Regions from separate parts of the Homo sapiens genome. Here region 2 is linked to region 1. A link means that fine-mapping ties the variant in region 1 to the expression of a gene that starts in the linked region. Tissue or cell type: whole blood. Region 1 holds a variant in brackets; the other region holds the start of a gene. All regions are shown on one strand. Distances are between the middles of the regions.

The links. PIP is the estimated chance that this variant, and not a neighbour inherited with it, causes the effect.
Region 2: it holds the start of LINC01772, and the variant in region 1 is fine-mapped to the expression of LINC01772 in whole blood (INTERVAL, PIP above 0.99).

The regions. Positions count from the first base shown.
Region 1 is chr1:16,236,484-16,244,584 of GRCh38, forward strand. CPLANE2 (ciliogenesis and planar polarity effector complex subunit 2) reads right to left here and starts at 700. Exons shown (of 5, transcript NM_030907.4): 1 at 148-700. The coding sequence starts at 259. It also overlaps the pseudogene MT1XP1. RefSeq lists an enhancer at 193-737 and a silencer at 578-757. The variant T/C (reference allele first, on the strand shown) is at 3,554.
Region 2 is chr1:16,455,999-16,464,099 of GRCh38, forward strand. It overlaps LINC01772 (long intergenic non-protein coding RNA 1772), which reads left to right and starts at 4,950. Exons shown (of 2, transcript NR_147210.1): 1 at 4,950-7,289. NECAP2 (NECAP endocytosis associated 2) reads left to right here. Exons shown (of 8, transcript NM_018090.5): 8 at 2,844-4,080. The coding sequence ends at 2,892.

The DNA of each region.
Region 1 (8,101 bases):
AGTCCCCCAGGCTGAAGACTGCTGAAGACTGCAGTGGAGCAGGCCCTCACTGCCCTGCCTCTCTGCTCTCCTCAGGGAGCAACAGGTGACACTCTTCTCCCCAGGGAAAGACAAGTGGCGGGCTAGAGGAAAGGGGGAGGCACTTACCAAACACCCGCCGGCGGTTCTTGCGCAGAATGCAAGCCAGGTACTCCTTGCCCTCGGCACTCTCGTGCCAGTTTGGGACAACCACCGAACCGGGCACGGGAGGTCTGGCCATGGCTGGGCACCGCGACGGGGTAGGGAGGTGACAGAATGCTGAGAGCAGGGAGTGGGAAGGGGAGTGACAGTACCAAGCCGGGCCTGTGATCCCTCTTAACTGCCCTCTGACTCTCCCGGGGGGCCCCAGAAAGTGCAGTCCCTCAGCCGCCTCTCTCCTTCGCAATGCTCCCTGGGGATAGTCATCCCATTACTGCCCATGGAGGGTATTCACACAGCCCCTCTCCCCTTGTCACCTCCGGGGGTCAGACAGCCCCGCTTCTCCTCTACCTTCTAGATCCCGACTCCCAGGGCTACCTAGCCCTCCCCGTCAGCAGTCCCGGCGGCGAACCGACCTGGGTGCCGAAGGCCCCTTTAAACGCCCACCCGCACTCCCGCCGCCCCAGCCCGCCGGGCCCACTTCCGCCCCGCCTGCGTCCGCCTTCTGCGCGTGCTGGCAGCTCCGGCGCAGGTGCGCGCGGCGCATGTGCGGAGGTTGTTGCCATGGAGACGCCGGAGGTTGGGTTGGGCGGGTTCCGGGAGGCGTTCGTCCCTCCTACAACGTCCGCAGCCTGCGCCGCGCGGTGGCTCTGGACTAGGCCTTTTCCTCTGGGTTGTGGATCCTCTTCTCTATGACTCCGTCCGATCCCTAGTCTTTCTTCCAAAACATCATGAAACCCCCCCTCCAGGAGCCTTTCATGCTTCTCTGTGTCTCAGTTTCCTCTTCTATAACGTGGACGTAACATGTTATTCCCTCCATAGCAGTGCTCCATATGTTTAGTTATGATTGTTGCTATTATTAATATTATTGCTCTATTAATCCTGCTTGGCAGGACCTCTAGATGACTTAAACATCTCTGGCTTCACTGATGGGGACACACACCAGCTCAGAGAGGTCAAGGGACTTGGCTCAAGTTTTAAAAAATGAGTCAGAGGCCCGCTGGATTGTATTTTTCATTCATTCATTCATTCAACAAATACTGAGCACCTAGCTGGGAATACAGTGGCCAACAAGAAGTCCCTGCTCTCCTGGAGCTGACTTTTCAGCTCTGAAACTCTGAGCTCCTCTCCACCGTTCCAGCACTGGACACCAGGCCTGTTACCCAGAAGGTGGGTGCTCAGTAAATGCCCACTGGTTGGAAAGAGTGCAGGTGGGTCATTACTGAGAGTTTGTCTATTACATTTAATTTTTACCATTATCTTTCCGCAATGCCTTCAAGTAGGGCAAATCACTGTTTTGAAAGGAATAATTTAGGAGTTAAGCTTTACCTAAGGCCACCCAAGTGCCAGACAGTGGGGACTTTACAGGGGTCACCTGATTTAATTCTATAAACAAACCTGTGTAAATAGTATTACCCTCTTGTACTGACGAAGACTCTCAGAAACATAACGTGACTTGTCTGAGGTCACACCGCACAGCTAGTCAGTGTGAAACCGACTCAGAACCCACAGCTGGCTGGGTGTGGTGGCTCACGCCTGTAATCCCAGCACTTTGGGAAGCTGAGGCGGGCAGATTGCTTAAGCTCAGGAGTTTGAGACCAACCTGGGCAACATAGTAAGACCCTGCCTCTACAAAAAAAAAAATACAAAAATTAGCCGGGCACAGTAGTGCACGCCTGTAGTCCCAGCTACTTGGAGGCTGAGATGAGAGGATTGCTTGAGCCCGGGAAATGGAGGTTGCAGTGAGCCGAGATCATGCCACTGCACTTCAGCCTGAGTGACAGAGCTAGGCCCTGTCAAAAAAAAAAAAAAAAAAAAAAAAAGAACCCACACTTACCTGACTCTAAAGTACTTATCTGTTCTGCCAGTTTGGGTTTTGTGTTTTTAAAACTTTGCCCCTAGCCACTAGGAGGGCTGTTCCTAGGGAAGCAGAAAGCAGCCAGAGGACTACGAACTCACAGATTTTTAAGGCCCATTATGTCTAAGAGAGGGGATGAGGATGTGTAAGACAAGGTGCTTTCTCTCAACTTGCTCACGCTGTGGCTAGGCAGAAAAACCAGATGAATAACCATTCCTACAGGATTCTGCAGGTGGAATCCTTTGCCCATACTCCCAGGTCACATGGTTCCCATTCCTGCAGCTGTCACATCTGCCCAGTCAGGGAGATTCACAGCTGTCCAGAGCTCTCTCCATGGGCCAGGAGTCACTCAGTGGCAGGGCTCTGATCTGAATTATTTCTGGATTTCCAGACTTCACATCCACCCATCTTTGGCTCGTGGAGGGCTCAGTGAGCGTGTGAGAAAATGAAGCAACTTGGCAGAATGAACGTGCCTGTTAATCTGCAACCCAGAGAAGATGTAAAGTCCTCTTGGGGCCATGTGCGGTGGCTCACGCCTGTAATCCCAGCACTTTGGGAGGCTGAAGCTGGTGGACCACTTGAGGTCAGGAGTTTGAGACCAGCCTGGGTAACATGGCAAAACCTTATCCCTAAAAATATACAAAAAAATGGCTGGGCGCGGTGGCTCACGCCTGTAATCCCAGCACTTTGGGAGGCTGAGGCGGGCAAATCACCCGAGGTCAGGAGTTCAAGACCAGCCTGGCCAACATGGTGAACCCTGTCTCTACTAAAAATACAAAAATTATCTGGCTGTGATGGCAGGCGCCTGTAATCCCAGCTACTCTGGAGGTTGAGGCAGAAGAATCGCTTGAACCTGGGAGGTGGAGGTTGCAGTGAGCAGAATCATATCACTGCACTCCAGCCTGGGTGACAGAGCTGAATAAATAAAATTATGTATTCAGTGGAAGGCTGATCAAGGACTCAAAAGAATGCAATCTTTTGTCTCCTATCTACTTTTTTTTTTTTTGAGACAGAGTCTCACTCTGTCGCCCAGGCTGGAGTGCAGTGGCACAATCTCGGCTCACTGCAACCTCTGCCTCTGAGGTTCAAGTGATTCCCCTGCCTCAGCCTCCCAGGTAGCTGGGACTATAGGCATGCCCCACCATGTCCGGCTAATTTTTGTTGTTGTTGTATTTTAGTAGAGACGGGGTTTCACCATGTTGGCCAGGATGGTCTGGATCTCCTGACCTCATGATCCGCCCACCTCAGCCTTCCAAAGTGCTGGGATTATAGGCATGAGCCACTGCACCTGGCCTTGTCTCTTATGTATTTCTAACCTGGAAGCCCCTGCTTCAAGCTGTCCTGTCTTACCAGACCAAACCAATGTACATCTTACACATATTGATTGAGGTCTCATGTCTCCCTAAAACTTAAATGCAAACTGTACCCCTGACCACCTTGGGTATATGTCTCAGGATTTCCTGAGGCTGTCACGGGCACATCCTTAACCTTGGCAAAATAAACTTTCTAAATTGACTG[T/C]GACCTGTCTCAGATATTTGGGGTTCACACATCCAACCCCGACATTCTGTGTCAGGGGCTGGGTAGGTCTGTGAGCCTGCAGATTTGACAAAAGCACTAGGCAGTTCTGAAGTTGGGGTCTATATGAGTCAGCCCAGGCTGCTGTAACAAAAATACCACAGTCTGGGTACTCTAAACAACAGAAATTTATTTTCTCATAGTTCTAGAGGCTGGAAGTCCAAGATCAAGGTGCCAGCAGAGTTGGTTTCTGGGTGGGGCCTCTCTTCCTGGCTTACAGATGGCCTCTTCTCTGTGCTTATACATGTCTGGTGTCTCTTCCTCTGTTACAAATAGGACATTAGTCCTACTGGATTAGGGCTCCATGCTTATGGTCTCATTTAACCTTGATTACCTTTTTCTTTTATTTTTTGAGACAGGGCCTCACTCTGTCACCCAGGCTAGAGGGCAGTGGTGTGATCTCAGCTCACTGCAGCCACGACCTCCTCAGGCTCAAGCAATCCTCCTGCCTCAGCCCCGAGGGGAGCTAGGACTACAGGTGCATATCAGCACGCCTGGCTAATTTTTTTTTTTTTTGTATTTTTGTTTGTTTGTTTGAGACAAAGTCTCGCTCTTGTGCCCCAGGCTGGAGTGCAATGGCGCGATCTTTGCTCACTGCAACCTCCATCTCCCAGGTTCAAGTGATTCTCCTGCCTCAGCCTCCCAAGTAGCTGGGATTACAGGCGCCTGCCACCACACCCAGCTAATTTTTGTATTTTTAGTAGAGACGGGGTTCTACCATGTTGGCCAGGCTGGTCTTGAACTCCTGACCTCGGGTGATCCGCCCGCCTTGGCCTCCCAAAGTGCTGGGATTACAGGCATTAGCCACCATGCCCGGACTTTTTCTTTTGTATTTTTTTAGAGGTACGGTTTTGCCTTGTTGCCCAGGCTTGTCTCAAACTCCTGGCCTCAAGTGATCTGCCTGCCTTGGCCTCTGAAAGTGCTGGGATTACAGTCATCAGTCACCATGCTCACCCTTCATTACCTTTTTTTTTTTTTTTTTTTTTAGTCTAGATGAATTTATTGCCATTCACATATTTCATAGAAAAAAAGATGTAGCAAATGGGTCAGGGTTGTACCAAAAAAATCCAGGTTTATAAGGTTGCTCTATTTACATCTGAGAGCAGGGCTGTCCTGGCATCAGGCACAGCAGCTGCAGTTGTCCGACGTCCCTTTGCAGATGCAGCCCTGGGCACACTTGGCACAGCCCACAGGGCAGCAGGAGCAGCAGCTCTTCTTGCAGGAGGTGCATGTGCACTCTTTTCATTTGCAGGAGCCGGCACAGGCGCAGGAACCATCAGGCGAGCAGGAGCAGTTGGGGTCCATTTAGAGGCAGGGAGAAGCAGGAGTTCCTGATCAAGAGGCAAACACTCAGCGGGACAGATGAAAAGCGTGCCTTAATTACCTCTTTAAAGGACCTATTTCCAAATATGGTCACATTGGGGGCTAGGGCTTCAATGTATGGATTTGGGTGGAGCAGGGCATAATTCAGTCCATAACAGGGTCCACAGACCTCATGTAAACACTGCTGCTGGGCAAAGGAGGCCAGCTGACTGTTGGGACCTGAAAGTGACATGGTTAGAACTGCGTTTCAGAAGGACGCTTGTGGACCGTGTTGGTCTATGAGTTCTGCTCTCCTGTGCCCCTCTGACCACTAAACTATGTGTCCCCCTAAGCCAGCTGCTTCTCCTTTCAGGGCCTCAAGCAAAACATGTAGAACATCTCCCTAAGGACTCTTCTAGTCTAGAGCCCTCTGATTTTTTTTTTTTTTTTTTTTGAGACAGAGCCTTGCTCTGTCGCCAGGCTGGAGTGCAGTGGCATGATCTTGGCTCACCGCAACTTCCACCTCCCAGGTTCAAGCAGGTCTCCTGCCTCAGCCTCCCAAGTAGCTGGGACTACAGGCGCATGCCACCACGCCTAGCTAATTTTTGTATTTTTAGTAGAGACAAGGTTTCACCATGTTGGCCAGGACGGTCTCAATCTCCTGACCTCGTGATCTGCCCGCCTCGGCCTCCCAAAGTGCTGGGATTACAGGCATGAGCCACTGTGCCCGGCCTAGAGCCCTGTGATTAATCCACTCATTTCTTCTTGGTTTGGTCTCCCCACAAATATTTATTAAAAACCTCTTGGACAAGGTCCCCACAAGACCTTGAGAGGACTCCACAAGGCAGGGACACAGTCACCAACTTGACAGAGTGGATGGGAGGCCCAGGTGGGCAGACACACAGGCCGAGCTGGGGTGAGAATGAGGCATGGAGAGCCCTGCCTGAGGATCCTGGGTAGGTGTGGGGCGGGAGGTCAGCTAGGACACCAGGCTTAAAATCCTCTTGGCTCCTAGAATAACACCCACCCCTCCCTCAGCATGGCCTGGCACCAGGAGTGCTCCACTCCCACCTGGAATGCTTGCTCTGCCTCCTAGCAGTCCTTCCACCAGGCTCACTGGCTTTAGGGATTCTCCAAGCTGGAGCCACAGCCAGTTAATCAAGTCAGGTCAAGGGCACCAGCCTCGCCACCAAGCTCAGTGGTCAATTCTCCATCCTCAGATCACCTGACCCTGGGATCATTCCCAGGTGACTGGATGGATGGTGGTGCCCCTAACTGTGGGGGAAGCATGGAGGAAGCGCACAGGGTCAGAGGAGGAGCCCCTGGGGAGTGAGGGAGGGTGGGGGGCTGCCCAGAGAGGACACACTCACAGCAGATGTTGGAATGTAAAGCGCAGGTGAGCGGCCTGAGTGAAGCTGGACATTACTGACGGCGGAGGGACCAAGCCTGAAGCAATGGGTGTAGACAGATGAGAGGTCCGGATGCTGTGGACAGACAGCAGAGCCTTGGATGCCACCTGGGCAATGACAACGACGAGGTCAGACCCAGGAGAGGCAGAAGAACCGGAAACCCCCTCCTCCAGCCCGCCCTGAGGCTCATGTTTGGTGTGCAGGGAGGCTTGCCCAAATCCCAGGGAAGCATGGCTGGGGAGCGATGCTACTCCTTGGACGCCATCTCTTGTGGGCCTTCTGCTGCAGAGAGCACTCTGCTCTGTGCCTCTGCCGTGGCCCCAGCCATGCGGTCCTAAGTGTTGTCTTCCCACTACGGATTCCACTCGGGAGCTCCTTTCCCATTACATCTGAGGGGATGACCTCTGGCCATCAAGTCCACATGGGTCACCCTCCATTGTCCTCAGCCCTGACCACTGGCTGCTGCGGCTTATAGGCTTATCAAGACCCTGCATTACTGACTGCCAGAAGCGAGGCCTAGACCCCACCCATCTGGGATGCCCCAGATAGGTTCTATCCTCATCTGCCCCCCTGCCACAGGTTAGCAGGACGAGGCCAAGTGCCATGATCTGAACGTCCTGCCAGATTCACATGTTGAAGTTTAATCACCACTGTGACAGTATTAACAGGTGGGGCCTTCAGGGAATGACTAAGTCATGAGGGCAGAGCCCTCACGATGGGATTAGTGATGTTATGGAAAGGCGTGAGGGGCCAGTTCATCCCATCCACGGTGTGAAGACACAGCCTTCACGATGGAGCAGCAACAAGGCAATGTCTTGGAAGTGGAGACTGGGCCCTCACCAGACACCAAGCTTGATGGTGCCTTGAGCTTGGACTTCTAAGCCTCCAGAAATGTGGGAAATACATTTCTGTTGCTTATAAATCACTCAGTCTGTGGTATGGTATATAGCAGCACAAGGGAACTAAGACACCAAAGCAAAGAGAAGGCTAACTTCTTGGCTTCTGGCTTCCCGAACAACTGTCCCAGCCCTGGGTGGCTGCACTGGTTGCAGATGGTTCTACTGACTCCATCCTCTTTGGTATCTTTTTAGTATGATACCTGGATTGTCTTTTGACCTTAGAATCTCAGGATTTGTCATTTTTGTTTAGCCCATGTGACACCTCCCTGGTTTGTGATTAGGCTGTAAGCTCCTTCATGGGTGGGCCTCTTTTGTGTCTTGTGTGTGTCCCAGTGCCTCGGGGGTCACAGATGCTCAGGGAATGCTTGCTGAGAGTGAATAGTCTCCCAGTCAGTTCCAGGTGTTCTAGGCCTTGTCAACGGGCCACAGCCCATGTCCTCGGGCAGGAGCATCCTCCCTCTCCCCAGGCTTCTGCTGGAAAGGAGCCCTCCTTCTCTTCCTTGCAGTAGGTGGGCAGACAGGCTCCCTGGTGGGTGCAGAACACACTCTGCTAGGACTTTTTGGCATTTACTTAAGACATGGGCTTGGCTTTGTGCATTCCGACAGGCTCTGGACCCAGAGCCCAGCCCCATGAGAAAGATGGTAATTTTCCCACAGCTGAGGGCTGGGGAAGGAAAGGCAGGTAGGCCAGCTGGAGGATGGTACTTGAAACAAGGCAGGGGCCAGGGACGGGTGCCCCCCAGGCTTAACTGACAGAGGGAGGGGAGAAACAGGCAAGCATTTTCTTACTCCTGCCCATCTGCTTTCTTTCTCAAGACTGCCTCCGACAGATCGCCCAAGCACACTTGAAGCCTTTCACAGGGTGCCCTCAGGTGGCCTTT
Region 2 (8,101 bases), 220 kb after region 1:
AGTTTTAATTTGGATGTTTTCTTTTCTTTTTTTTTTTTTTTTGAGAGGGAGTTTTGCTCTTGTTGCCCAGGCTGGAGTGCAATGGCATGATCTTGGCTCGCTGCAACCTCTGCCTCCCAGGTTCAAGCTATTCTCCTGCCTCAGCCTCCTGAGTAGCTGGGATTACAGGCACCTGCCACCACGCCTGGCTAATTTTTTATATTTTTAGTAGAGATGGGGTTTTACCATGTTCGTCAGGGTTGTCTTGAACTCCTGACCTCAGGCGATCCACCTGCCTCGTCCTCCCAAAGTACTGGGATTACAGGCATGAGCCACCGCGCCTGGCCTGATTTGGATGTTTTCAAGCTAGCCAGAGGACAGAGCCCCAGCGTGCCTGCTTTGGGTGGCACACGTCTTTCCGTGGAGGTTTTGCTGCTTTCCAGTGCTATATAGCCTGGGGCAACCCTTTGCAAATCTGGGCCTTTAAACCGCCTTCCCAAGTGCTTTGGCTTGTCCCCAGTACCTCCTTCTTCTATACCCCATCCCCCACCTTCCCCAAAATAGTGGACTGAGAGTTCAGACCCAGGCTCCAGCCTCAGCCCATCCTCATAGAACGCCTGAGGCTAGGTGGCTTGTCTTCTCTGATTCCATAAGATCTCAAGACTTTACTTGGGGCCAGGGTGAAAAGATACTAAATTCCTACTGCACTATTATTTACATGGACAGATTCTAGGACAGGGGTCAGCACACATTTTCTTTTTCTTTTCATGTTTTGAGACAGGGTCTCTCTCTGTCACCCAGGCTGGAGTGCAGTGGCACTATCACGGCTTACTGCAACCACATTCTCCCATGTTGCTGGCTCTACAGGTGCACATCACCATGCCAGCTATTTTTTGTATTTTTTCATAGATACGGGGTTTTGCCATGTTGCGCAGGCTGGCCTTGAACTCCTGGGCTCAAGCGATCTGCCTGCCTCGGCCTCCCAGAGTGCTGGGATTATAGGCACGAGCCAGTGTGCCCAGCCACATTTTCTGTAAAGGACTAGATAGCAAATAGTTTAGACTATTCAGGCCGTGTGGTCTTCGTTCTAGCTACTCAGTTCTGCTCTTGTTGCACAAAAGCAGCCACAGACAATATGTAAATAAATCAGCATGGCTGTGTGCCAGTAAAATTTTATTTACAAAAATAGAGGCATGGGCTGGGCGCGGTGGCTCATGCCTGTAATCCCAGCACTTTGGGATTCCCAGGCAGGCGGATCACCTGAGGTCAGGAGTTCAAGACCAGCCTGGCCAACATGGTCAAACCCCATCTCTACTAAATACACAAAAATTAGTTGGGCGTGGTGGGGTGGTGCCTGTAATCCCAGCTACTTGGGAGGCTGAGGCACGAGAATTGCTTGAACCCGGGAGATTGCAGTCAGCTGACATCATGCCACTCTAGTCCAGCCTGGGTCACAAGAGCAAGACTCCATCTCAAAAAACAAATAAACAAACAAAAAAAACAGAGGCGTGAAATGAGGACTGTAACCCTTTTCCTGTTTGCCCTGAGAAAACTTGCCAGTGGCACTTCAGACTGCAGCGTTGACCCTGAGATAACTTTGCCACAAAATGTATTGCTTTTATATTATTTTTGCATCGCTCTAGTATATCAGCTTTGGAACAAAAGACATTCTATTTATAGCATTCTGTTTTTAATAGTGGTATTTCCATTTACAAAATATAGTAATTCTGTTTTTTTTTTTTTTTTTTTTTTGAGACAAGGTTTCACTCTGGTTGCCTAGGCTGGAGTGCAGTGGCGTGATGTCGGCTCACTGCATCCTTGACCTTCCAGGCTCAGGTGATTATCCCTTAGCCTCCTGAGTAGCTGGGACTACAGGCAATTGCCACCACACCCGGCTAATTTTTTGTATTTTTAGTAGAGGCGGGGTTTTGCTATGTTGCCCAGGCTGGTCTGGAACTCCTGGAATCCAGCAGTCCGCCTACCTCAGCCTCCCAGAGTGCTGGGATTACAGGCGTGAACTACCATGCCTGGCCCAAAATATAGTAATTATTGATTACTGAAAAAGTCAAATCCTAGAAAACGCAGCATTCTTACATGTGATGTTAACATCGTTCTTGAACAGTTTTTAGCCTAAGATTCATTTGAGGAGTCTGATTTTTCCAAAATAGTTCTGATTATTCAGATGATTCTGAAATAACTCCAAGAACAGTTTTTATATTTTATTTTCACGTTGAAAATCAGTCAGATTTGCTTCAGCCTCAAAGAGCATGTTTATGTAAAATTAAATGAGGGCTGGCAGTGAGCTATATTTTTTCTACATGGGAAAGGGGTTAAGACTCTTCGGCCAGGCATGTTGGCTCACGCCTGTAATCCCAGCACTTTGGGAGGCCAAAGCAGGCAGATCACTTGAGGCCAGGAGTTCGAGACCAGCCTGGGCAACATGGCAAAACCCTGTGTCTACTAAAAGAAATACAAAAATTAACCGGTCATGTAGTTCCAGCTACTAGGGAGGCTGAGGTAGGAGGATCGCTTGAGCTCAAGAGGTTGAGGCTATAGTTGGCCTTGAGTGTGCCACTGCATTCCAGCCTGGGCGACAGTGAGACCCTGTCTCAAAAAAAAAACAAAACAAAAAACAAAACCACAAACAAAAAACTTTGGTAAATACAGTTACATTAACTATTTAAAAAAAAAAAACCATCGAGGGCCAGATTTGGTCTCTGTGCCAGAGTTTGCTGACTGCTGCTCTAGAACATTTAGGAACTGGCTTCTTAGAGCTTTTTCTGTCCAGAGAGAAACCAACTTTTATCTGCTTTGTATTTTCAAAGATCTGAACTCCCCCACCCTTCCCTGTCTTCTCTTTACAGATCAACTTCCAGCCAGACCCAGCCAGGCACAGGCTGGGTCCAGTTCTGACCTGAGCACGGTTTTTCCTCATGTGACTTCTGGGAAGGCGCTCCCTCATCTGGGCCAAAGGAAGGAGGACGAAGCCCTCCTCAGCTGGCCTGTGTTTGGGGCATGAATCTCTCCTCTCCTCCTTGTCTGGCTCTGTTGACAAACCGGGCATGTTTGGCAGTAAATTGGCACCGTGTCACACTGTTTCCTGGGATTCAAGTATGCAACCAGAACACAGGAGAAGAAAAGCTCCAGGATCCCTGTCCCCATCTGTCCTCTTGATGTGAGAGAGACTCTGAGACTTCTTCCATCGCAATGACCTGTATTAAACACAAGCCCCCCAAGCAAAAGAAGAGGTTGAGTTTGCTGCCAGGATTCAGATCAGCCCTTCCCAGGGTCTGCAGGTGTCACATGATCACAGTTCAGCGGGAGGCTTTCCGTACCCACACTGGCTGTAGCCACTTCAGTCCATCTGCCCTCCAGAGGAGGGGTTTCTTCCTGATTTTTAGCAGGTTTAGAGGCTGCAGCTTGAGCTACAATCAGGAGGGAAATTGGAAGGATTAGCAGCTTTTAAAAATGTTTAAATATTTTGCTTTGCTAATGTGCTGATCCGCACTAACTCATCTTTGCAAAAGGAACTGCTCCCTCGGCGTGCCCCAGCTGGGGCCTCTGAAGGGATTCCTCACTGTGGGCAGCTGCCCTGAGCTTCAGGCAGCAGTGTTTATCTCTGGCCAGTTGTCTGGTTTCCATGTATTCTAGGCCAGGTAGGCAACACAGAGCCAAGGCGGGTGCTGGAAGCCAGACGGAACAGTGTTGGGGCAGGAAGGTGGATGCTGTTGTCATGGAGCTGTGGGAGTTGGCACTCTGTCTGCTGGTGGCCCTCTCGGCTCACATGTTCACAGTGCAGCTCCTGGCAGACTTGGGTTTTCTCTTTGGTGGTTTCTAAAGTGCCTTATCTGCAAACAACTTCTTTTCTCCTTCAGGAACTGTGAATGGCTAGAAGAAGGAGCTCAGTAAACTAGAAGTCCAGGGTTGCTTGGTTTACTGGTTTATAAGAAATCTGAAAGCACCTCTGACATTCCTTTTATTAACTCACCTCTCAGTTGAAAGATTTCTTCTTTGAAAGGTCAAGACCGTGAACTGAAAAAAGTGTTGGCCTTTTTGCGGGACCAGATTTTTAAGATAAAATAAATATTTTTACTTCTGTCATTGTATGTGAAAGATGAATGTGTTTCTGGCCGCGTGGCTGTTAAACTCTTCAGGGTGCCACAGCTAGACTCACGGCCACTTCTCTCACCACTGACCAAGTGTCCAGATTGAAAGTTCAGGGCTGGGGTGTGAGGCTGGCCAAAGTGAGGAAATGCAACCTTGTTGTCTAAGGCAATCGGTACCTTCTCTCCTGTGTTCTCTAGGATAGTACAGTCTTTTCATCATCCTTTGGTTGATGTGAAAGTAGTTGCTTGAATCACTTTGTGTGGGGCTTAATTCTCTTGTGGCGTCTCATGATACAGGCCGTTCTAGAGAGCCTGGCCCCTTGCTTTCCGTCTTCCACCAAACCTACCGGCAGAGCATCTCCCTAAGTAGTAAAGGGGTGCAGATACCCAGAGGTCAAAAGTAAAATTAAGAGGCCGGGTGCAGTGGCTCACGCCTGTAATCCCAGCACTTTGAGAGGCCAAGACGGGAGGATCATTTGAGGCTGGGAGTTTGGGACCAGCCTGGGCAACATAGTAAGATGCATTTCTTTCCTTTTTTTTGAGACACAGTCTCAGTCTGTTGCCCTGGCTGGAGTGCAGTGGAGCAATCTTGGTCACTACAACCTCCGCCTCCCAGGTTAAAGTGATTCTCCTACCTCAACCTTTCCAGTAGCTGAGATTACAGGCACCTACCACACCGAGCTAATTTTTGTATTTTTTCAGTAGAGATGGGGTTTCACCATGCTGGCCAGGCTGGTCTCAAACTCCTGACCTCAAGTTATCTGCCCGCCTTGGCCTCCCAAAGTGCTGGGATTATAGGCGTGAGCCACGGCACCCGGCTGTTAGACCCCATTTCTTAAAAAAAAAAAAAAAAAAAAAAATTAGTGTGGTGGTGGTGCATGCTTGGAATCCTAACTACTTGCGAGGCTGAGGTGGGAGAATTGCTTGAGCCCAGGAGTTTGAGGCTGCAGTGAGCTATGATCACGGCCTCGCACTCCAGTCTAGGCAGCAGTGAGACCCTAGAGAATTCTCTAAAAGAATTAAAAATGAAAAAAAGCCACAACACTTCTTTTGCCTGAGGATTCTGTAAGAAGCAGTTTTTATTGTTATGGAAATAGCCACTCTGATTAAGAAACTGTAGAGAGGAGAAAGAAAATGAAAATTGAAGATTCTCTTGCCCATTGAATTAAGGGTAAGGAGATTGCATTAAAGGATCTTCGGGAGCAGTAACTTTTTTATGTCGATTTCACATAGCATTACTTCACATCGAGTCAGTTTTAAGTACTTGGAGGGTGGAAATCAGAAAGCTTAGATGTAGAGGAAGCTTTATTAGAAGTGTGTACCATGGCTGGGTGTGGTGGCTCATGCCCACAATCCCAGCACTTTGGGAGGCCGAAGTGGGTGGCTTACTTGAGGTTAGGAGTTCGAGACCAGCCTGGCGAACATGGTGAAACCCCGTCTACTAAAAATACAACAATTAGCCAGGCATGGTGGCGCACGCCTGTAATCCCAGCTACTTGAGAAGCTGAGGCATGAGAATTGCCTCCAGGAAGTGGAGGTTGCAGTGAGCTGAGATCATGCCACTGTACTCTAGCCTGGGCAACAGAGCAAGACTGTCTCAAAAGGAAAAAAAAAAAAAGTATGTACCATTGAAGATCAGCACTTGGATTGTGGAGACAGACCTGGCCTTAGGATCTAGGCTATCCCCTGGTTAGACGTGTGGCCACAGGCTGTTCCTTCACCTGAGCGTCACTCGGATGAGGCACTAGCAGATGCACATTGCATTGTTTGACCTTAATGACCTTTCTCTGGAGTCAGGTAAGTACCCAGAACAGTTCATCATGGTAGGGAGGAGGAGGTGGCACAGCTGATGACACAGCCCTCAGGAATCTAGCCTGAAAAGCACCTTGTGGGGTCTGGGGCCAGGAGCAAGGGACAGCTTGATGCTGTCCATCACTAACTGGAATCCCAGCTGGAAAAAACTCATTACAGGACCAGAATCTCCAGGAAAACTCAATCCCAAACCAGGCATCACTTCAATTACACCCCTGACTGGAGTTTACAAACTGGTGGGTGGATGGTAGAAGATGGCTGCTTTCTTGGGGGGTATGCTAGACCTCACTTGCCCTCTGCACAACAGAATTTGGATGCACTGGGAGGTGTGGCAGATAGACTCCCAGGTGGTCACTGTGATCCCCACCTGCTGTTCACAGCCTTATGTACTCCCTGCCCCTTGAGATGGCCTAGACCTGTGACTGCTAACCAGTAGAGTGCCACAAAGGTGACAAGATGTTATTTTCATGGTTGCCTTATGTAAGACTGCAACATCTGCCTTGCTGAGAAATTCTCTTGCTGGCTTTGAAGAAGGAAGCTGTCATGTTGTGTGAGCTGCCCTTGGGAGAGGGTCAGGTGGCTAGGAACTGAGGTAGCCTCTGACAGCCAACAAGAAACTGAAGCTCAGTCCAGCAGTCTGCAAGAAAGCAAATGCTGCCAGCAACCACACAAGCTTGGAGGCTGATCACTCCCAGGTAAGCCTTCAGGTGAGACCCCAGGCCTGACCAACACTGACTGCAGCCTTGCAGAGGACCAGCTAAGCTGTGCCCAGACTGTCCCATAGGAACAGATGGTAAATGTATTGTGTTAAGTCGCTAAGTTTCTGGTAAGGTTATGCAGCAATAGATAACCAACACAAAGGTTAGCAAAGTGTGTTTGAGGTGGGAATCAGTGTGGAAAAGAGAGAATCTGGATAGACTTAATAGCTGTAGGGCCTTGGGAGGTCCCTTATGATGCTCCTTTGGGCCTTCCTGTTGCCTTTAAGTAATGCTTATTGTTTATTGCTAAAGTAATGCTTAACTCTCTGCTAGGCACTATTCTATGCACTTATAAAACTCATTGCATCATCTCTACAACCCCATGAGGTAAGGACTTGTTTTTTTTGTGTTTTGAGACAGTCTCGCTCTGTGGCCCAGGCTGGAATGCAGTGGCATGATCTCAGCTCACTGCAACCTCTGCCTCCTGCGTTCAAGCAGTTCTTCTGCCTCAGCCTCCGAGTAGTTGTGATTACAGACGTGTGCCAGTACTTCCGGCTAATTTTTTTGATTTTTAGTAGAGACGGGGTTTCATCATGTTGGCCAGGCTGGTCTCAAATTCCTGACCTCAAGTGATCAGCCTGCCTTGGCCTCCTAAAATGCTGGGATTACAAGTGTGAGCCACCGCACCTGGCCAGTAAGTACTTGTTTTAGTCTATTTGGGACTATGACAGAATAACATAGCCTGGGTAGTTTATAAACAAAAGAAATTTTTTGCTCACAGTTCTGGAGGCTGGGAAGTCCAAGGCACCAGCAGATTCGGTGTCTGGTGAGGCCGTCTTTTTGCTGTAACCTCACATGGTAGAAGGGGCAATAGAGTACTCTGGGGACTTTTTTTTTTTTTTTTTTTTTTTTTTAAGAGATGGAGTCTTGCTATATTGACCAGGCTGATCTCAAACTCCTGGCCTCAAGTGATCCTCCTGCTTTGGCCGCCCAAAGTGCTGGGCTTAAAGGCATGAGCCACCACATGGGAATGGCACTGCCTTTTTTTTTTTTAAAGATAGTTTTGCTCTTATTGCCCAGGCTGGAGTGTGATCTTGGCTCACTATAACCTCTGCCTGTTGGGTTCAAGCAATTCTCCTGCCTTAGCCTCCCAAGTAGCTGGGACTACAGGCACATGCCACCACGCCCAGCTAATTTTTGTATTTTTAGTCAAGATGGTGTTTTGCCTTATTGGCCAGGCTGGTCTCAAACTCCTGACCTCATGATCCACCTGCCTCAGCCTCCCAAAGTGCTGGGATTATAGGCGTGAGCCACCACACCTGGCTGGGGCTTCCTTATAAGGGCAATACTGTTTGTGAGGGCTCTACGCTTATGACATAATTACCTTCCAAAGAACTCACCTCCAAATACCATCATACTAGGGGTTAGGTTTCAGTATGAATTTGGAGGTGGGGGTGGACACAAATGTTTATAGCAGTACTCATCCCTGTTTCGAAAATGAGAAAT